Homo sapiens: one gene and its partners. The protein of the gene in region 1 purifies or fractionates together with the protein of each later gene. This does not show direct contact. Each region holds a gene or a part of one and is shown on either strand. Other genes may lie near its edges. The genes, in order: RBM5, SF3A3, SIRT5 and DBT.

The links.
Region 2: the proteins of RBM5 (region 1) and SF3A3 purify together in Homo sapiens (affinity purification with mass spectrometry; one large-scale study listed by BioGRID and IntAct). This does not show direct contact.
Region 3: the proteins of RBM5 (region 1) and SIRT5 purify together in Homo sapiens (affinity purification with mass spectrometry; one large-scale study listed by BioGRID and IntAct). This does not show direct contact.
Region 4: the proteins of RBM5 (region 1) and DBT purify together in Homo sapiens (affinity purification with mass spectrometry; one large-scale study listed by BioGRID and IntAct). This does not show direct contact.

What each region holds. Positions count from the first base shown.
Region 1 is NC_000003.12:50,105,225-50,110,685, forward strand, and holds part of RBM5 (RNA-binding protein 5), read left to right. Parts: intron 1-324; coding exon 325-485; intron 486-1,542; coding exon 1,543-1,640; intron 1,641-2,257; coding exon 2,258-2,345; intron 2,346-2,845; coding exon 2,846-2,923; intron 2,924-3,007; coding exon 3,008-3,080; intron 3,081-4,378; coding exon 4,379-4,464; intron 4,465-5,154; coding exon 5,155-5,239; intron 5,240-5,454; coding exon 5,455-5,461. UniProt on the Homo sapiens protein: Component of the spliceosome A complex. Binds to ssRNA containing the consensus sequence 5'-AGGUAA-3'. Regulates alternative splicing of a number of mRNAs.
Region 2 is NC_000001.11:37,968,458-37,973,918, reverse strand, and holds part of SF3A3 (splicing factor 3A subunit 3), read left to right. Parts: intron 1-4,183; coding exon 4,184-4,348; intron 4,349-4,454; coding exon 4,455-4,565; intron 4,566-5,461. UniProt on the Homo sapiens protein: Component of the 17S U2 SnRNP complex of the spliceosome, a large ribonucleoprotein complex that removes introns from transcribed pre-mRNAs.
Region 3 is NC_000006.12:13,579,973-13,585,433, reverse strand, and holds part of SIRT5 (NAD-dependent protein deacylase sirtuin-5, mitochondrial), read right to left. Parts: intron 1,359-5,461; 5' UTR 1,324-1,358; coding exon 1,209-1,323; intron 448-1,208; exon of another isoform or gene 307-447; intron 1-306. UniProt on the Homo sapiens protein: NAD-dependent lysine demalonylase, desuccinylase and deglutarylase that specifically removes malonyl, succinyl and glutaryl groups on target proteins.
Region 4 is NC_000001.11:100,242,342-100,247,802, reverse strand, and holds part of DBT (lipoamide acyltransferase component of branched-chain alpha-keto acid dehydrogenase complex, mitochondrial isoform 1 precursor), read left to right. Parts: intron 1-3,200; exon of another isoform or gene 3,201-3,260; intron 3,261-5,461. UniProt on the Homo sapiens protein: The branched-chain alpha-keto dehydrogenase complex catalyzes the overall conversion of alpha-keto acids to acyl-CoA and CO(2).

The DNA of each region.
Region 1 (5,461 bases):
GGTGAAACCCTGTCTCTACTAAAAATACAAAAAATTAGCTGGGTGTGGTGGCACACACCTGTAATCCCAGCTACTCCGTCTCAAAAAAAAAAAAAAATTGACCTCAGTTGGAAATTTCTGTTCTCCTACCCTTTTGTAAGGAGCAGCAGCAGCTTCGGGTTGTCCCTTAAAAGACAGGATTTTTAGAATCTTCTCCATGTCAGGGTAGAAAATACACTAGGAATGTCACAAATGGATTTGTATGTACTTGACCCTATCTTGGAAAACTTTGGTACATTGGTGGTGGGAATGCATGTGTATGTCATTTGTCTCATTTACCCCTAGCGATCATTCTTCGGAACATAGCTCCGCACACTGTGGTGGATTCCATCATGACAGCACTGTCTCCTTACGCGTCTTTAGCTGTCAATAACATCCGCCTCATAAAAGACAAACAGACCCAGCAGAACAGAGGCTTCGCATTTGTGCAGCTGTCCTCTGCAATGGTGAGGTTCTCATCGATTCTTTCCTTTTTAAAAGAAACAGCTTTAAGAGGCAAATGTGGTTCATCCAGTTTTGAAACTGTCTGAGGCTCCTAAAGCCCAAGATGCAAGGCTCCCTAATGACAGTTTTTGCACTGCTAAATTACAGGACTGATGACTTCAGTAAGTAGTAAAAATAATGTGTATACCTATAGGCAACTGGCAGAATTTTTTGAGCCACAGTTTAGTCCTTGGTACTTTGTTTTTTGTTGTTGTTGTTCTTTTTTGGGATGGAGTCTCACTGTCGCCCAGGCTGGAGTGCGGTGGCACCATCTCGGATCACTGCAACCTCTGCCTCCAGGGTTCAAGCGATTCTCCTGCCTCAGCCTCCTGAGTAGCTGGGATTACAGGTGCCCGCCACCACGCCCAGCTATTTTTTTTTTTTTTTTTTTTTTTTTTTTTTTTTTGAGAGGGAGTCTCGTTCTGTCGCCCAGGCTGGATGGAGTGCAGTGGTGTGATCTCGGCTCACTGCAAGCTCCATCTCCCCAGGGTTCACGCCATTCTCCCGCCTCAGCCTCCTGAGTATCTGGGATTACAGGCGCTCACCACCATGCTCAGCTAATTTTTTGTATTTTTAGTAGAGATGGGGTTTCACTGTGTTAGCCAGGATGGTCTTGATCACCACCTCTGCCTCCCAAAGTGCTGGGATTACAGGCGTGAGCCACCGCGCCCAGCCACGCCCAGCTAATTTTTGTATTTTTAGTAGAGACAGGTTTTTGCCATGTTGGCCAGGCTGGTCTCGAACTCTTGACTTCAAGTGATCCGCTCATCTCAGCCTCCCAAGTGCTAGATGTACTTTGTTTTAGATTGGTTTAGCATTTGCTCTTTTGGTAATACTGGAAACCTTCACATCTTAGAGGAAAGAGAGATATTCCTTTCTTGAGGTTTCATATCTGCAAACACAATAAGGAATTAATTGCCTTTTATTTTTTAATAGAAAACTACTTCTTTGAATGGGGTGGATGGTAGGGAGAGATTTTTAATTGCATTACACGTTTTTTTCCTTCACATTCTCCTTCAGGATGCTTCTCAGCTGCTTCAGATATTACAGAGTCTCCATCCTCCTTTGAAAATTGATGGCAAAACTATTGGGGTTGATTTTGCAAAAAGTGCCAGAAAGTGAGTGGCTTCATTGTCCTTATTTCAAACTACTGCATATGCACATTTGTACAGTGTGCTAACTGAACGCCAAGCCTGTGCCCCAAGTATGTTGAGACACTGTGATCCTCCCTGATTGCCAAGGCCAGGAGGGACACGTTTGTCTTCTTTTAGTGATTATTCCCTACTGTCCTGTGTAACCAGTTGATGAAGTTGCCTGAAATGGTTTCAGATCAGGAGAAAGGCAAGTATGGCAGATGGGTTGAGAACACATGCTTTGCAAACTGCAGCAGTATAGTGCTAACCCATCCAGAAATAACCCATTCCTTCCAGAACAGCGTGCTAATAATTTCATGTATATAGTGCTTAACTCTAACACGGTAAATTTCCCTTTTTTTAGTATCATTGCACATTCAAAAAACTCTTCGTTAGATGGCAGGTTACAAGGTAGAACAATGATACTACAGGGCCACTTGCTTACTGAGGAATTTCCCCATGAAGAGCCCTCCCCCTGTGAAATGTGGCCTTGCTGGCATTTGAGAACTGACAAAGGGTGGAGTGAATCAGTTGGTGGTATAGGGGCACTAATTGTGGGAATACTGTGATAGAATCACATGATTGGATCTTTGTGGTTTCAGAGACTTGGTCCTCTCAGATGGTAACCGCGTCAGCGCTTTCTCTGTAGCTAGTACGGCTATTGCTGCTGCTCAGTGGTCATCCACCCAGGTAAGATCGAGGATCTTTTTGCTCAAGGTAGTGTGGTGGTGGTGCCCAGATTCACAGACGTGACCTCTCCTGTGGTACTCGCAGTATGAGCTCTTTTCTTTTCTTTTTTTTTTTTTTTTTTTTTTTTTTTTTTTGAGACAGAGTATCACTCTCGTCACCCGGGCTGGAGTGCAATGGTGCAATCTTGGCTCACTGCAAGCTCCACCTTCCAGGTTCAAGTGGTTCTTCTGTCTCAGCCTCTTGAGTAGCTGGGATTACAGGTACCTGCCACCACGCCTGGCTAATTTTTGTATTTTAGTAGAGATGGGATTTCACCACGTTGGCCAGGCTGGTCTTGAACTCCTGACCTCAGGTGATCCACCCACGTCAGCCTCCCAAAGTGCTGGGATTACAGCCGTGAGCCACAGCGCCCAGCATCATGAGCTCATTTTTAGGGACTTCTGAATTTTTTTCCTTAATGCCTACTAAGTTTGTCTTTGTCTCATTTTGATGTTTTGTAGTCTCAAAGTGGTGAAGGAGGCAGTGTTGACTACAGTTATCTGCAACCAGGTCAAGATGGCTATGCCCAATATGCTCAGGTAGGTAGATTTTAGCAGCATCCACCTTATAGTCTTGCAGAGTGTGTCTGAGAATAGCAGCTTTAATGGTGGACTTTTCTTCAGTATTCACAGGATTATCAGCAGTTTTATCAACAACAAGCTGGAGGATTGGAATCTGATGCATCATCTGCATCAGGTAGTAAACTTCATCTCCCTTTTACCTTTTGTTTAAGCACTTACAGTTGAAGAAATATGATTAAATGTCCTAACTGGACCAAAAGCTACAAGTCCATTTCTCTGTAAGATTGTAGGGGGCATGGCCGGGCACGGTGGCTCACGCCTGTAATCCCAGCACTTTGGGAGGCCAAGGCAGGTGGATCACGAGGTCAGGAGTTCAAGACCAGCCTGGCCAACATGGTGAAACCCCATCTCAGCTAAAACTACAGAAATTAGCCAGGTGCGGTGGCAGGCGCCTGTAATCCCAGCTACTCAGGAGGCTGAGGCAGGAGAATTGCTTGAACCCGAGCGGCAGAGATTGCAGTGAGCTGAGATTGCGCCACTGCACTCCAGCCTGGGCGACAGAGTGAGATTCTGTCTCAGAAAGAAAAAAAAAAGAATGTAGGGGGCATATTCAGGGCTGTCATCATGTACCCAAGGTTCTGGGGAAGAATACGGTTATTTGTGTACACCAGGAGTTAATACAAGGTCTTAGAGACCATGTTGTGATGAGTTTAATTCTTGGAATTCAACTCTGTATTTCCCCTCTCTGTGTTTGGAGTCGTGAGTGCCCACGTAAGTTCAGGTGAGCAGAGAGGATGTGGCCCTGGAGACTGGTGCTCAGACATCAATCAGAAGAGCTACTCTAAGAAGCCTTGGCTTTAATTTTTGTTTCAGGCTTTAAAAAGCCTTGTGAGTTAAATCTTTCTCAACCCCAGAGCAAATATAGATCCTTTCTTCTCTTCCTTTTCTCTTCTTTTTTTTTTGAGACGGAGTCTCGCTCTGTTGCCCAGGCTGGAGTGCGGTGGCGTTATCTCGGTTCACTGTGAGCTCTGCCTCCCAGGTTCACGCCATTCTCCTGCCTTAGCCTCACAAGTAGCTGGAACTACAGGTGCCTGCCACCACTCCCGGCTAATTTTTTGTATTTTTAGTAGAGACGGGGTTTCACCGTGTTAGCCAGGATGGTCTCAATCTCCTGACCTCGTGATCGGCTCGCCTTTTCCTTCCAAAGTGCTGGGATTACAGGCCTGAGCCACTGCACCCGGCCTCTTCTCTTTTTCTTAGCCATGATACAGAATCCTTAACTTTGTATATCACATCTAGTAGAATTATAAGAAAATGAAAATGTCACAGATTCCAGGGTACTTAGTGGAAGTTAGCTTATGAAGAACTGACATATACAATGACAGAAGAAGGCTAGATTGGGCATTACAAATAAAGATGTTTGGGTTGGCGTTCAGTGCCTTGGCTTTCCCTAACACTTGTGTTTATCATCAGGCACAGCAGTGACCACCACCTCAGCGGCTGTAGTGTCCCAGAGTCCTCAGCTGTATAATCAAACCTCCAATCCACCTGGCTCTCCGGTAATCCTGTTGTCCTATATACAAAACTCGTGGCTGATGGGGAAATTTTGTTTTGCTATACAAGTATTACCCTTTCCTGTTGTATGAGCCAGGATTGAGTAATACACACTTCAACCTTATTTCTTTCTGTTGTTTTAAAATATTAATTTTATGATATATATGTGCATGTATATTTTAAATATAAAATTTCAACTGTGTATTTACACTTTATGCATGCTTGACCTTTAGAAAGTTGTCGCCGGGGCCGGGTGTGGTGGCTCGCGCCTGTAATCCCAGCACTTTGGGAGGCCGAGGCGGGTGGATCACGAGGTTAGGAGATCAAGACCATCCTGGCTAACACGGTGAAACCCCGTCTCTACTAAAAATACAAAAATTAGCCGGGCGTGGTGGCACATGCCTGTAATCCCAGCTACTCGGGAGGCTGAGGCAGGAGAATTGCTTGAACCCCGGAGACGGAGGTTGCAGTGAGCCAAGATTGCGCCACTGCAGTCCAGTTTGGGCAACAGAGCAAGACTCCTCTTGAAAAAGAAAGCAAAAAAGTTGTCAACATGTGTTTTGCTGAGGGATTGCCTTAGATTATTGCTACAGTGTGTCTGTCAGGGGAGCCCTTCCTCCTGGATGATTGCAGTGATTTAGCTCTCTTAAAAGGCTTTACAGTTGAAATTATATTGAAGCTGCTGTTCTTTCCAGACTGAGGAAGCACAGCCTAGCACTAGCACAAGTACACAGGCCCCAGCCGCTTCCCCTACTGGTGTAGTTCCTGGTACCAAATATGGTAAGCCAAACCTCATGGGGCTGTTGACAGTTGGAAGGTCTTAGTTGTTGTCTTTGTTTAATGAGAGTTCTTCTCCCTTTGCGGGTGTCAGAGGGACACTTGGGGATGTGAGACAGAGAAGAAACATTAGGCCTGCTGCATCTCACTGGCTTAGAATTTGAAATAAAGCCAATTTCTTACCTGGAATGACTGTATGCTGGATTTTGTTTTTGCAGCAGTACC
Region 2 (5,461 bases), on another chromosome or scaffold:
GAACTCATCCTTTTTTATGGCTGCATAGTATTCCATGGTGTATATGTGCAACATTTTCTTAATCCAGTCTATTATTGATGGACATTTGGGTTGGTTCCAAGTCTTTATTATTGTGACTAGTGCTGCAATAAACGTAAGTGTGCATGTGTCTTTATAGCAGCATTATTTACAATCCTTTGGATATATGCCCAGTAATGGGATGGCTGGGTCAAATGGTATTTCTAGTTCTAGATCCTTGAGGAATCGCCACACTGTCTTCCACAATGGTTGAACTAGTTTACAGTCCCACCAACAGTGTAAAAGCGTTCCTGTTTCTCCACATCCTCTCCAGCACCTGTTGTTTCCTGACTTTTTAATCATCGCCATTCTAACTGGTGTGAGATGGTATCTCATTGTGGTTTTGATTTGCATTTCTCTTTGTAGATTCTTTGTAGTTCTTTGTAGATTCTGGATATTAGCCCTTTGTCAGATGGGTAAATTGTAAACATTTTCTCCCATTCTGTAGGTTGCCTGTTCACTCTGATGGTAGTTTCTTTTGCTGTGCAGAAGCTCTTTAGTGTAATTACATCCGATTTGTCAGTTTTGGCTTTTTTTTGCCATTGCTTTTGGTGTTTTAGTCATGAAGTCCTCGCCCATGCCTATGGCCTGAATGGTATTGCCTAGGTTTTCTTCTAGGGTTTTTATGGTTTTAGGTTTAACATTTAAGTCTTTTTTTCTTTTTCTTTTTCTTTTTTTTGTTGGAGACAGAGTCTCACTCTGTCGCCCAGGCTGGAGTGTAGTGGCATGATCCCAGCTCACTGCAACCTCCACCTCCTGGTTCCAAGCGATTCTCCTGCCTCAGCCTCCCGAGTAGCTGGGACTACAAGCATGTGCCACCATGCCCAGTTAATTTTGTGTATTTAGTGAGACAGGGTTTCACCATGTTAGCCAGGCTGATCTCGAACTCCCGACCTCAGGTGATCCACCCACCTTGGCCTCCCAAAGTGCTGGGATTACAGGCGTGAGCCACCGCACCCGGCCCACATTTAAGTCTTTAATCCATCTTGAATTAATTTTTGTATAGGGTGTAAGGAAGGAATCCAGTTTCAGCTTTCTACATATGTCTAGCCAGTTTTCCCAGCACCATTTATTAAATAGGGAATCCTTTCCCCATTTCTTGTTTTTGTCAGGTTTGTCAAAGATCAGATGGTTGTAGATGTGTCATACTATTTCCAAGGACTCCGTTCTGTTCCATTGGTCTATATCTCTGTTTTGATACCAGTACCATGCTGTTTTGGTTACTGTAGCCTTGTAGTATAGTTTGAAGTCAGATAGCGTGATGCCTCCAGCTTTGTTCTTTTGGCTTAGGATTGTCTTGGCAAGGCAGGCTCTTTTTTGGTTCCATGTGAACTTTCAAGTAGTTTTTTCCAATTCTGTGAAGAAATTGGTAAGCTTGTGAAGTCATTGGTAGCTTGATGGGGATGGCATTGAGTCTATAAATTACCTTGGGCAGTATGGCCATTTTCACAATATTGATTCTTCCTATCCATGAGCATGGAATGTTCTTCCATTTCTTTGTGTCCTCTTTCATTTCGTTGAGCAGTGGTTTGTAGTTCTCCTTGAAGAGGTCCTTCACATCCCTTGTAAGCTGGATTCCTAGGTATTTTATTCTCTTTGAAGGAATTGTGAAGGGGAGTTCACTCATGATTTGGCTCTCCGTTTATCTGTTATTGGTGTATAAGAATGCTTGTGATTTTTGCACATGATTTTGTATCCTGAGACTTTGCTGAAGTTGCTTATCAGCTTAAGGAGATTTTGGGCTGAGACAATGGAGTTTTCTAAATGTACAATCATGTCATCTGCAAACAGGGACAATTTGACTTCCTTTTTTCCTAATTGAATACCCTTTATTTCTTTCTCCTGCCTGATTGCCCTGGCCGGAACTTCCAACACTATGTTGAATTGGAGTGGTGAGAAAGGGCATCCCTGTCTTGTGCCAGTTTTCAAAGGGAATGCTTCCAGTTTTTGCCCATTCAGTATGATATTGGCTGTGGGTTTGTCATAAATGGCTCTTATTATTTTGAGAAACATCCTATTAATACCTAGTTTATTGAGAGTTTTTAGCATGAAGGGCTGTTGAATTTTGTCAAAGGCCTTTTCTGCATCTATTGAGATAATCATGTGGTTTTTGTCTTTGGTTCTGTTTATATGATGGATTACGTTTATTGATTTGCGTATGTTGAACCAGCCTTGCATCACAGGGATGAAGCCAACTTGATCATGGTGGATAAGTTTTTGATGTGCTGCTGGATTCAGTTTGCCAGTATTTTATTGAGGATTTTTGGATCGATGTTCATCAGGGATATTGTCTAAAATTCTCTTTTTTTTGTTGTGGTCTCTGCCAGGCTTTGGTATCAGGATGATGTTGGCCTCATAAAATGAGTTAGGGAGGATTCCCTCTTTTCCTATTGATTAGAATAGTTTCAGAAGGAATGGTACCAGCTCTTTTTGTACCTCTGGTAGAACTCGGCTGTGAATCCGTCTGGTCCTGGACTTTTTTTTGGTTGGTAGGCTATTAATTATTGCCTCAGTTTCAGAACCTGTTATTGGTCTATTCAGGGATTCAACTTCTTCCTGGTTTAGTCTTGGGAGGGTGTATGTGTCCAGGAATTTATCCATTTCTTCTAGATTTTCTAGTTTGTTTGTGTAGAGGTGTTTATAGTATTCTCTGATGGTAGTTTGTATTTCTGTGGGATCGGTGTTGATATCTCCTTTTTCGTTTTTTATTGCGTCTGTTTGATTCTTCTCTCTTCTTTATTAGTCTTGCTAGCGGTCTTATCAATTTTGTTGATCTTTTCAAAAAACCAGCTCCTGGATTCATTGATTTTTTTTGAAGGGTTTTTTTGTGTGTCTGTCTCCTTCACTTCTCCTCTGATCTTAATTATTTCTTGCCTTCTGCTAGCTTTTGAATGTGTTTGCTCTTGCTTCTCTAGTTCTTTTAATTGTGATGTTAGGGTGTCAGTTTTAGATCTTTCCTGCTTTCTTTTGTGGACATTTAGTGCTATAAATTTCCCTTTACACGCTGCTTTAAATGCGTCCCAGAGATTCTGGTATGTTGTGTCTTTGTGCTCATTGGTTTCCAAGAACACTTTATTTCTGCCTTCATTTCGTTATTTATCCAGTAGTCATTCAGGAGCAGGTTGTTCAGTTTCCATGTAGTTGAGCGGTTTTGAGTGAGTTTCTTAATCCTGAGTTCTAGTTTGACTGCACTGTCGTCTGAGAGACAGTTTGTTATAATTTCTGTTCTTTTACATTTGCTGAGGAGTGCTTTACTTCCAACTATGTGGTCAATTTTGGAATAAGTGTGATGTGGTGCTGAGAAGAATGTATATTCTGTTGATTTGGGGTGGAGAGTTCTGTAGATGTCTATTAGGTCCGCTTGGTGCAGAGCTGAGTTCAATTCCTGGATATCCTTGTTAACTTTGTCTCGTTGATCTGTCTAATGTTGACAGTGGGGTGTTAAAGTTTCCCATTATTATTGTGTGGGAGTCTAAGTCTCTTTGTAGGTCTCTGAGGACTTGCTTTATGAATCTGGGTGCTCCTGTATTGTGTGCATATTTTTTTTTTTTTTTTTTGAGAAGGAGTCTCACTCTGTCGCCCAGGCTGGAGTGCAGTGGCGGGATCAGAGCTCACTGCATCCTCAAACTCCTGGGCTCAAGCAGTCCTCCTAACTCAGCCTCCTAAAGAGCTGGGATCACAGGTGCACACCTCCATGCCTAGCCAATTTGTAAATGTTTTGTAGAGATGAGATCCCATTGTGTTGCCCAGGCTGATGTCAAACTCCTGGCCTCAAGTGATTCTCCCACCCCAGCCTCCAAAAGTGATGGGATTACAGGCGTGAGCCACCACACCCAGCCAGGAAATATTTTAGAGTCAGAATAGATGAGACTGTTTTCTGTTGTTCTATAATAGCCTCAGATGAGTAATTAGGCAAGTGATGTAAAACCTTTGACTCTTTTCTTTGGGATCAGGTAGAGCCTGCTGATAAGGAGTTCTGATATGAAGGCAAGATTTTCCTTTATTCTGTAAGAAAGAACCTTATCCTTGGAAGTAAGGGGTCAGCAAAAGTTACAGGAAAACAGGAAATTTCCCTTCTTATTCTGCACTACTTTTTTCTGACTTTTCATTTATGGACCTGCTTTAGGAACAGCGACATCTCACTCATGAAAATGTACAGCGCAAGCAAGCCAGGACAGGAGAAGAGCGAGAAGAAGAGGAAGAAGAGCAGATCAGTGAGAGTGAGAGTGAAGATGAAGAGAACGAGATCATTTACAACCCCAAAAACCTGCCACTTGGCTGGGATGGCAAAGTAAGTCTCAGCACTACCACTTTCTCCCCATTCCCCATTTTGGAAACAGATACAGAGTTTAGTAGGCTAACACTTCTTGGTTTTGTTTTGTTTTTTTCTTTTTTAGCCTATTCCCTACTGGCTGTATAAGCTTCATGGCCTAAATATCAACTACAACTGTGAGATTTGTGGAAACTACACCTACCGAGGGCCCAAAGCCTTCCAGCGACACTTTGCTGTAAGGAATTCAGAGCCATTTTTCCTGGGAATTGAAGTAAAAACATGAGACTTTTAGAGAAAAGAGTAGGAGCAGCCTATGTGGACCACTGGTGTCCAGAGCTGAAGGGAATCAGAGAAGGATGGTTTTAAAATCAAGCCCATGGCATTTGACTTTTGGCACCAATGTTAGTCTTAAATACCTGAGATAGTTTCTGGAGGAATTCTACCGCACCACTCTTTGAACCTTATTTGGTTTTCTCTTGCCTGCTCTTAAACTTCTCTGTTTTTGTCTTTCTGCTAGCATTTTAGACCAATTTCTGACTTCTTGGTTATTTCTCTACCCCATTGCTAATACTCAAGATAAAAAATAGGGCTGACTGATCTCTTTCAGATCTTAAATGGATCTTTGCCTCTTGAGAAAATAAAAAATGAAGGGGCTGATATTTATCAAGCCATTCTTGAGACAGGGTATTGTCCGGATGATACTGCTGTAAGTGGGCTCACCTCTAAGTGGGCTCTACTTAGAGTTCTTAGATTTTGGAAGGAAATTTTACAGAAAGGAAAACATTTATGCTAGACCAAGGATGACAAATTTATATGAACTCCTCTCCCCCTCTCTGAGTCATACATATTACTAATTGATAATGGGTCTTTTTTGCTGAGCCCATGAGTGAGTTCTGAATCCTTCTCAGCACCTCCTACAATGATTGGAGTTGGCATCCAGGATAAAGCCCATGCCATTTACCATCCCTTAGTTAAAACTGCCATCATGTCAGTGTATAATCTCCCTGCTCTCTCCTCACCACATCATTGTGCCTAATAAAAGTCTTCTCCTTTACCTACAAAGATGATGCTGACCTGCCATTAGTAACCCCTATTCATGCAGGTGTTTGGAGTTGCTGGGGCTTTGGTAAG
Region 3 (5,461 bases), on another chromosome or scaffold:
GGGTAACATCACACACTGGGGCCTGTCGGGGGGTGGTGGGCTTGGGGAGGGATAGCATCAGGAGAAATACCTAATGTAAATGATGAGTTGATGGGTGCAGCAAACCAACATGGCACATGTATACCTATGTAACAAACCTGCACGTTGTGCACATGTACCCTAGAACTTAAATTATAATAAAAAATAAATAAATAAATAATTTAAAAAATAAAAAAGTAAAAGAAATAACAAAAGACGGTCACAACACGCCATTCTCGTCAGGTTGCAACCAACCCAACTACCCCACCAATCACACTAAAGCTCTACCTGAACTCACATCCCTTCCAGAGATAGGCTGCTTGTTTTTGTCAGGTTTGTCAAAGATCAGATGGTTGTAGATGTGTAGTGTTATTTCTGAGGCCTCTGTTCTGTTCCACCGTGACCGTCTTAATTTCTCTCAGCCTTGTGCTGCCAAAACATGAATGGAGCCAGAGAGGAAAAAGCCTACTCTTCTTCTGAGTTCACTATAGACTAAGGGCCCAGACAGGTTAATTTGTAGGTTTTTGCCAGGTAGAGCTGCAAAGTATTTCTGTCCAGGAGAAAATTTAACCTCATACTGCCCTATAGGACAATCACCAGTTTTCCTCCCCTGCAGAGAGATAAGGATTTTATAGTACAAAACATGTGTAAAAAGCTTAAATGCAAATATTCTGGCAGAAGCAACAAAATGTCCTAGATGGACTTGAGTATTAAGGAGATAGGCTCTGAAGGTGCCCTAGAAGGGATTACCTAAAAGAGAAGAGGACAGGTGGGCGCGGTGGCTCATGCCTGTAATCCCAGCACTTTGGGAGGCTGAGGCAGGCAAATTACGAGATCAAGAGATCGAGACCATCCTGGCCAACATGGCGAAACCCCATCTCTATTAAAAATACAAAAATTAGCTGGTTGTGGTGGCATGTGCCTGCAGTCCCAGCTCCTCGGGAGGCTGAGGCAAGAGAACTGCTTGAACCCAGGAGGCGGAGGTTGCGGTGAGCCGAGGTCGCACCACCGCACTCCAGCCTGGCGACAGAGCAAGACTCCGTCTCAAAAAAAAAAAGAGAAGATGACAGAGTGGCTTTCTCCAAAACCTTGCCCAATACCTAATTTGACAGAGACATTCCTCTCGAAGTGTAGGACTTTCAGGTACTTCACATTTGGCTGCAGGTGAGGCAATGGGTAAAATGACTTACTTGAACTTGGCCGAGCCATTTTCAGGCAAATCTGGTTTCGTGTGGACGCTGGAGGCTTCAGGCCACAATATAGCTGGGAAATCAATCGACTTGGGACAATCTGGAGAGGTCGCATCAGGGTTTGTCTGTAGTTCTAATGCTTGAGGCGGGCTTTAGAAAAATCACAAAAACAAATAGTGTAGAAACAATCAGCAAATATTTTTATATATGGAAATATGTATAAATATTTATATTTTATATATTACAGAAACGCATCATGTATATTATATTATACCCACACGCACACATACACGAATGTCCTTTAAAAAATCTTTAGTAACAGATCATCCTCTGAACTGGCTGTTTTCCGTTTGTGTTCTCAAGTGCTCCTAGAGGTGCAGAGGTGCCTTGGAGCAGTGCTTCTCAAAGCGTGTTCCCTAGACCAGCAGCGTCGCCATCACCTGAAATCTTGTTAGAAATGCAGCCTCTGGTTCCACCTCAGAGCTGCTGAATCAGAAACTCTGGGGGTGGACCCCATCATCTATTTCCAGGTGATTCTAGTAACTACTCAAGTTTGAGGACCACTAAAATGCACAAGAAAGGGTTAAATATGAGAATTCATTTGAAAACTTGCTGCTTTTCAAAAGGTATGAAGCCAGGTGCAGTGGCTCACGCCTATAATCCCACCACTTTGGGAGGCCGAGATGGGTGGATCACCTGAGGTCAGGAGTTTGAGACCAGCCTGACCAACATGGTGAAACCCTGTCTCTACTAAATACAAAAAATTAGCTGGGAGTGGTGGTGCATGCCTGTAATCCCAGCTACTCAGGAAACTGAGGCAGGAGAACTACTTGAACCCCGGAGGCAGAGGTTGCAGTGAGCCGAGATTGTACCATTGCACTCCAGCGTGGGCAACAAGAGGAAAACTCCATCTCAAAAAAAAAAAAAAAAAAAAAAGAACAAAGAAGAAAAAAAAGAAGGTATGAAAACCACCACTAGTCTCTCAACTTGCGGTCAAAGTACAGTTTCTTTCTTTTATTTCAGACAGGGTCTCACTCTGTCACCCAGGCTGGAGTGCAGTGGCGTGATCACGGCCCACTACAGCCTTGACTTCCTGGGCTCCAGCGATCCTCCCACCCCATCCTCCCCAGTAGCTGGGACTACAGGCACGCGCCACCATGCCCGGCTAATTTTTGTATTTTTGGTAGAGACAGGGTTTCACCATGTTGGCCAGGCTGGTCTTGATCTCCTGAGCTCAAGCCATCCACCCACCTAGGCCTCCCGAAGTGCTGGGATTACAAGCATGAGCCACCATGCCCAGCCCAAAGTAGTTTCTGTGAGAATGTAATTTCTAACTGAGAACTAAATTCTGAAGGAAAGAAGTGTACTGTGACAATAGTATTAAGATAACATCGTGTCACAGAAACTCGTGGATCTTAAGGCACATTCAGTAAATCTTTGTCTATACCTGAGGAATTTTATAAAAAGAAAACAAACACAGAGAAAGACAACATTTGGAACAATGACACTGATTGTCCAACAAAACTGTGGGGGCAGAAAATATAACGGTGGTTGCCAGAAAGGGGAGGAGTGATTAAAAAGGGGCATGCGGGAATTTTTTTTTTTTTTTTTTTTGGTGGGAGGCAATGGTATTGTTATATATCTCGATTGTGGTAGTAGTTACATGACTGTATCTGTCAAAACTCATAAAACTCAATACTAACAAAGGGTTAATTTTATTAGACACATATTTTACTTAAAAATAATGAGTATAGAGCTTCAGTTTTACAAGATGAAATGAGTTCAGGGGATTAGCTACACAACAATGCGAATAGACTGAACTGTACCCTTAATAATGGTTAGAATGCTAAATTTTGTTACATGTGTTTTACCACAATTGTATTTTGTAAGAGAAAGGCAAGGGGATAAAAGAATATACCTTAACTTTCTTGCATTTGCTATAAAAACAAAAAAAGAATTCACAAGAAATTAGTAAAAAGAATTGAGTATAGGGTGGGAAACGCTATGTAAGGAGATTAGAGCTGAGCAAGGATTTTCCATATGTGTTTATATATTGTTTGGATTATCAATGCCTTCCAGTCCAAGGAACACACTTGTACTCGAGCAAGTTGCGAGAGATAGAACACGCCATGAAGAACTGCAGCATCTGTTAGGAACCTGGAATGGACTGATTAGAGGATTTGTGCTTGTGTTAGATCATGTTGGGGAGAGGTTCATGGAAGTGGGGCTTTGTTCTGGATTTGATGCTGTTAATGGATCTTATCTAAAAGGTGGAAGGAATGAAGAGAGGCTAGAGCTGTGAGTGGCCAAGCAGGAGTCCCTCATGTTAGCGGCATGGGAGGATGTTTGGTCATCTTTGTGGCTTCAACAATGTTCCTGTTTCGGTCCCAGTTCAGACGTGATTACTGAGTGGCCTTGTTCTTGTCCTGACCCATTGTGGTCACAGAGTGGCCCTGTCTGATATCGGTGCTCTGTGACGTGGTTTATGTTCAATAGAACACCAAGGCCTATCAGATAGTGCCAGGCTCAAGACTAGAAGCAAACCAAATGTCCATCAATTTATAAATGGGTAAACAAATTGTGGTTTATCCATACCATGAAGACTCTTCAGCAATAAGAACAAACTACTAATACCTTCAACAGCATGAATGAATCTTTAAAAGTGTTATCCAATAATAACTCTATAGTAGAAAAGCTGGCAGCTACCACCTTAACCAAGTGATCAAAGTTAACATCACCAGTAATAAGACATGGCGACTCCACCTACCTCCTCATATGATGCAATGAGAAGGGCAAAGCATCACTTGTGTGGCATTCATGACTGCAATTTAGTTATGAGAAAATGCCAAACTCAAGCTGAGGGGCGTTCTACACACTCTACAGCAAAACTGGCCAATACTCTTCAGAAAAGTATCAAAGTTTTGAAAGATAAGAACTGGAGAAACTGTCCCAGGTCCTAATGAGACATGACAAGTAAATGCTACGTGGGATCCTGGGCTGGATTCAAGACCTGAAAAGGGACATTAGTAGGACAAATGGCAAAATTTGAATGAAGCCTGTAAATTAGTTACTAGTACTGTATATGTAAATGTCTAGGTGTAGTACTTGTCCTGGTTTAGATCATTGCACTCTAGTTAGGTAAGATGTGAACATTAGAGGAAATTGGGTAAATGGTATAATGAGAACTCTGTGTACTATTTTTGCAACATTTCTGTAAGCCTAAAATTATTTCAAAATAAAATTGCTTCACAACAAGAAAAAAAAGGGCCAGCCATGGTGGCACACACCTGTAATCCCAGGACTTTGGGAGGCTGAGGCAGGAGGATCACTTGAGCCCAGGAGTTCGAGACCAGCCTGGGCAACAAAGTGAGACCCCATCTCTACAAAAAAGTAGCTGGGCATGGCAGTGCATGCCTATGGTCCCAGCTACTCAGGAGGCTGAGGTAGGAGGATCACTTGAGCCCAGAAGGTTGAGGCTGCAGTGAGTCATGATTGTGCCACTGGACTCCCTGCCTGGGTGAGTGAGACCCTGTCAAAGAAAGGAGAGAAGGCCAGAGCAGGAGCGAGAGTGAGGGAGAAAGAGAGAAAGAGAAAAAGAGAGGAAGAAACAGAGGGAGGGAGAGGGAAAGAGAGACAGAGAAGCATTATGCTAAGTGAAAGAAGCCAGATACAAAAGGCTACATAGTTTTTGAGACCATTTATAAGACATTTTAAAAAGGCAAAACTGTTGGTACAGAAATCACACCAGTGGTTTCCAGGGACAGGGGTCGGGGGAGTAAGGGGGAGCAGAGAAATTTTTAGAGCAACGTAAAATTACATTATCTTTATTTTTGTGATTTTTTTCAACACTCATAGAACTGTATAATAAAAAGCGTGAATTTTACAGTGCGTAAGGAGTAATATGATAAACCTCACCTACAAATAAGCAAGCAAGTCAACACGTTTTCAATGTATCCTGTCTCTTCTGCAATCAAAAAGACTGTAGAAGAAGATTGACACTCAAAAAGAGAAGAGGTTAGAGAAACATGGTGTAGTGTCTCCAGAACAACCTCAGGGGACAAGGCTGTCTGGCTGCCTAAAGTTACTTCTGCAGGGAAGGCAGGCAGACTGGCTGCTAGAGGGAAGTGAACAGACTCATGGGCCCCAGCAGCCACTCTGGTGAGCAGCTCCCAGACTCAGTGACAATGGTGACATCCAACCAACATGAATATCACTCCAGTGCTTGATTTAAAGAAAGCTTGAGGAAAATGGAT
Region 4 (5,461 bases), on another chromosome or scaffold:
CTTCTCACAGTGTCTGCCGTAAAGCTTCAAAGCAGGTCAGACTCTCCAGCCTCTAGAACTGAACCCTCAAACCAGTTTCTCTTAATTTTTTTTTTTTTTTTTTTTGAGAAGAGTCTTGATCTGTTGCCCAGGCTGGAGTGCAGTGGTGCAATCTCGGCTTACTGCAACCTCCACCTCCTGGGTTCAAGTGATTTTCCTGCCTCAGCCTCCCAAGTAGCTGGCACTACAGGCGCGAACCACCATGCCTGGCTAATTTTTGTATTTTTAGTAGAGACGGGGTTTTGCCATGTTGGCCAGGCTGGTCTTGAATTCCTGACCTCAGGTGATCCTCCTGCCTTGGCCTCCCAAAGTGCTGGGATTACAGGCGTAAGCCACTGCCCCTGGCCCAGTTTCTCTTGATTTGAGCCTGTAATTCTCTCTGAAGAAATCTAGTCATGATTTTTCCACCCTGCCCTCAACTGGAGGTGTCTTGGCCCTTCTTAACTGGATTATATGCCTCCAGTGGTCTTGTAGTTTTTCCAACCCATTCTCCATAGTGTAGCCAGAGTGATCTTATAAAGTAAGAGACATTTGATAATATCATTTTCTTGTTTAAAACTGCCTTCAGCAAAATGTCCAAAATTCAAATGACTATGAGGCAATTTATGATCTGGACCTTTCCAGTCTCTTAGATCTCATTCCTTACCAAAACCTACCCATCCCAACCCCAACTCTGACACTTCCCCACCCTTATTCCACACTAAACTACACTAGAAGTCTGTTGAACAACTTGAGTTATTTGCACACACACTGTGCTTTCTGTCTCAACTCCAGACCTTTGCACATGTATTTCCTCTGCTTTAAAGACTCTTGCCTTACTCCACTGTGGCCTTATCTGCAACATACCTCATCCCCGGGGTTACACCTACTCATCCGTCAGGTCTTACTTCAACATAACTTTCTCCAGCTAGGTTCCCTTAACACACTCTATTTCCTTCATTATAGCACGTGTTATAATCACCGGTTTACTTGTCTTTACCTTTCACTGTACTGTGCATTCTATAAGGGAAGAAATTGCATCTGTTTTGTTCTCTGTATAATCCCAAGTGCCTGGCACATTGTAGGTGTGCATAAATATTTTTTAAATGACTCAGTAAAAAAAAAAGTCAGGTTTGTAAACTCTTCTAAAAAGTTGTAAGCAAAAACAGTTCTTACCCCCGTAGTAAATTATTAAAATAGCCTTATAATGTTGTGTTTTACATTTCCCTAGGACATAATGCATTTGACTCTTGATTAATCATGCCATTTGGAATTTTTCTGTTGTGTCTGTCTTCCTGTAGTAAAGTGTAAGCAATTTGAATTCAGGAACTATATATTGCATCTTATTTAGCTTTGCATTTCCAAGTCCAGTACAATGTCTGACTTTAGGAGTGCTCAACAGCTGCCTATTGAATTATTATTAAATATTTCCTTAATACGCTACTTTGGTGAACAGTTTCATTTCCCTTTATGTTCTTCTGTCCTGGTTGTGATATTGAATTATTAATTTTTTATTTTTATTTTTTTTGAGACGGCGTCTCACTCTGTCACCAGGCTGGAGTGCAGTGGTGCAATCTCAGCTCACTGCAACCTCCGCCTCCCGGGTTCAAGCGATTCTCCTGCCTCAGCCTCCCAAGTAACTGGGCAGGCACGCGCCACCATGCCCAGCTAATTTTTGTATTTTTAATAGAGACGGGGTTTCGCTGTGTTGGCCAGGATGGTCTTGATCTCTTGACCTCGTGATCCACCTGCCTCAGTCTCCCAAAGTGCTGGGATTACAGGCATGAGCCACTGCACCTGGCCTAATTTTTTATTTTATTTATTATTATTTTTGAGACAAGTTCTTGCTCTGTTGCCCAGGCTGGAGTGTGGTGGCATGATCTTGGCTCACTGCAGTCTTGACCTCCTGGGCTCAAGTGGTCCTCCTTCCTCAGCCTCCCAAGTAGCTGGGACTACAGGCATTCACCACCACAGCCAACTAATTATTTTGATTTTTAGTAGACAAAGTCTCAATGCATTGCCCAGTATGGTCTTGAACTCCTGGGCTCCAGTGATCCTTCTGCTTTGGACTCCCAAAATGTTGGGATTACAGGCATGAGTCACTGCACCTGGCTGAATTATTTTTAAAATCAAGGAAAGACCTATTTTAGTCAAATAATTGCATTAAGACTTAGACTACACGTATAGTTGTTCAACCAGGATGTATTTGAGAATGAAAATGGTGTTATTAATAATTGCCTTGAATCACTAGAGGTGAATTGGGTGTCACCTCAGGCAAATTGGTACAGATGGTCCCCATAGAACTAGGTGTCTTTAGTATTGTTCATAGATGAATTTAGAATTGCTTCAAATATAAAATATATAAAACTGATAATTCCATAAGCATGCCTTTTTAAAATTGGAGGTTTAAAGCCTTATGCTTAATTTACTAGTCTAGCTGGGTGTGGTGGCTCACACCTGTAATCCTAGCATTCTGGGAGACTGAGACAGGAGGATTGCTTCAGCCCAGGAGTTTAAGACCATCCTGGGCAAAAAAGTGAGACCCTGTCTTTATTTTATTATTATTATTATTATTTGAGATGGGATTACAGGTGTGAGCCACTGCACCCAGCCAACCCTGTCTTTGAAGAAAATTAAAAAATATAATTTACTAGTCTAATAGTCTGTTTCTAGAAAAAAAATTTAGAATTCTAGCTTGAAAAATTATTTCTTCTCCTCTTTCCTGTTGCCTGTTAATCCATCTATTCAGCAACTTCACAGTGTTTTTAGCCTTCTCCTCAGAGCCATTCAATTACTATTATATTAATCATATACTGCCTATGGTACTTTTGTTGCTTTTTTTCTTTTTCTACTATTAATTACCTCAGTCAGGAGCCTGTTGCTTTGTGTCTCAAATACTATACAGTACTCTCCCCTTCTTATCTGTGGTCTCAGTTAGCCATGATCTACTGTAGTCTGAAAATAGGTGAGCACAGTACAGTAAGATATTTTGAGAGAGAGACCACATTCACAAAACCTTTATTACAGTATATTATTATAATTTTTCTATTTTATTATCAGTTATTATTATTACTGTCTTACTGTGTCTGATTTATAAATTAAACTTTATCATAGGTATGTATATATAGGAAAAACACGGTATATGTAGAATATGTAGGATTCAGTACTGTCCATGGTTTTAGGCACCCACCGGGGGATCTTGAACGTGTCCACTGCACATAAGGAGATAAGAGAGGAATACGGTAATAGTTATTTTTTTAAAAAAATCCTTTTTTGATAATTTTGGTATGTAATAGTTTCTTGACTTCTCCCTTTCTCTCCAGATTTTATCTGTTATAATCTATTCAATAAACCACTACTAATTTCCTAATCCTTTTTCTTCAATAACCCATAATGTATGAGTTCAAACTCCTTATACTGACATTATAGTCATCAACCATTTCCTCCTTGAGCTGTTTCCATTGCTCTCTTTTATACCTTTGGTCAAGCCAAATCAAGCCGCTCAATGTCCCAGCAGATATGCTAAGTCAATTTCTGCTGTAGTTTATTTATGCTGTTTCCTCTGCCTTAAAAGTGCCCTTCTGCTCTTTTATTATGTATGCTTATTATGCACAGTGCAGCTTAAATCTTCCTCCAAGAAGCCTTCCCAGGTCACACTAACGTGAAAAAAAAGCCCACCAGACCCCTCTACTTAAACTCCTTTTTTTTTTTTTTTTTTTTTGAGATAGAATTTTGCTCTTGTTGCCTAGGCTGGAGTGCAATGAGATTACAGCTATGAACCACTGTGCCCGGCCTGCTTAAACTCCTTTATCACGTACTGCCTATGTCTCTTTTTTTTTTTTTTCGTAAACCTATGGACTATATTAAAGAAGCCTATGCCTCTTATTACAAAAAGTTAGAGCATGCATGTCCATGCTTGAGTGTGTTTGTATGTGTGTTTATTTTCTCACATACGTTGTAAACTCTTTGAAATTAGGGATTATTTCTCCTATTTCTAGGGTCTTTGACATCAAATTTATTTAGCTTCAGAGCTCGATTGTTCCACTTATTTGCTGTGTGACCTTGGACAAATTACTTCACCTTTCCCATCAGTTTCCCGTGTGTTGAAGAGGGCTAACGTGTATGTTCCACAGGGAAATTGTAAATGTAAAGATGATGTCTGGGCCGGGCACCATGGCTCATGGCCTGTAATCCTAGTACTTTGAGAGGCCAAGGTGGGCGGATTGCCTGAGCTGAGGAGGTCGAGAGCACCCTGGGCAACATAATGAAACCCCGTCTCTACTAAAATACACACAAAAAAAGTTTAGCTGGACATGATGGCACATGCCTGTAGTCCCAGCTACTTGGGAGGCTGAGGCACGAGAATCGCATGAACCTGGGAGGCGGAGGTTGCAGTAAGCTGAGATCGTGCCACTGCACTCCAGCCTGGGTGACAGAGTGAAACTCCATCTCAAAAAAAAAAGAAAAAAAGATGATGTCTAAAAAGGCTATTTTTCTTTTTTTCTTTCTTTTTTTTTTTTTTTTGGAGACAAGGTCTCTCTGTCACCTAGGCTGAAGTGCAGTGGTGTGATCTTGGCTCATTGCAACCTCCGCCTCCCAGGTTCAAGTGATTCTTGTGCCTCAGCCTCCCAAGTAGCTGGGACTACGTGTGCCACCATGTCCAGCTGATTTTTGTATTTTTAGTAGAGAGGGGGTCTCGTCATGTTGACCAGGCTGGTCTCAAACTCTTGACCTCAAGCAATCCACTCACCTCAGCCTCCCAAAGTGATGGGATTACAGGCCAGAGCCACCATGCCTGGCCTGTCTGAAAAGAAAGTACTCAGCACATGGGAGGCACTCAATAAATGTTAAGCGTGGTGGTTTATGCTGCCCCGACCCATGAATAGTTCAATACGAGTTGTGTTGTTGTTGAAGGTAAGACCTTCTAGTAGTTTAATTTTCTTTCAAATGTTTTACAAATATGAACAATTTTATTTAAATTAAGGTGAATCTATATACTTCAAAACTTTCCTTTATTGTCCCTAAGTTTTATGTCTGATGAAACAGAGGTTGATTCACTCCTTTGATTTTATTGTTGACCAAGAGTCAGGATTATGGGAGCTGAAGGAGAAAGCAAGGACAAACAAAATGGAAATGTTTGGGAAAGAGAATTCTTTTATTGTCTTCTGGTTTTAAGTTATCAATTTTAATTATTTTAGTTAGGCTTTATATTTCCTGAATATTAATGTTAGTAAAAATAAAATGTTGATATTATAAAGACTAGTCGATTTAGGGTGATCTCTAAAGTTAAGATGAATGATTTAAGATTATTTATGTTTTAGGAAAGGGATCTTCAGTTTTTCTTTGCCTTCAGAAATCAGTAATAGTTTGAAATTTAAAGTAAAAAAATAAGAATTTAAATGTATTGTTCTTGTCAGTAAACCAAACTTTTACTTTTATATTT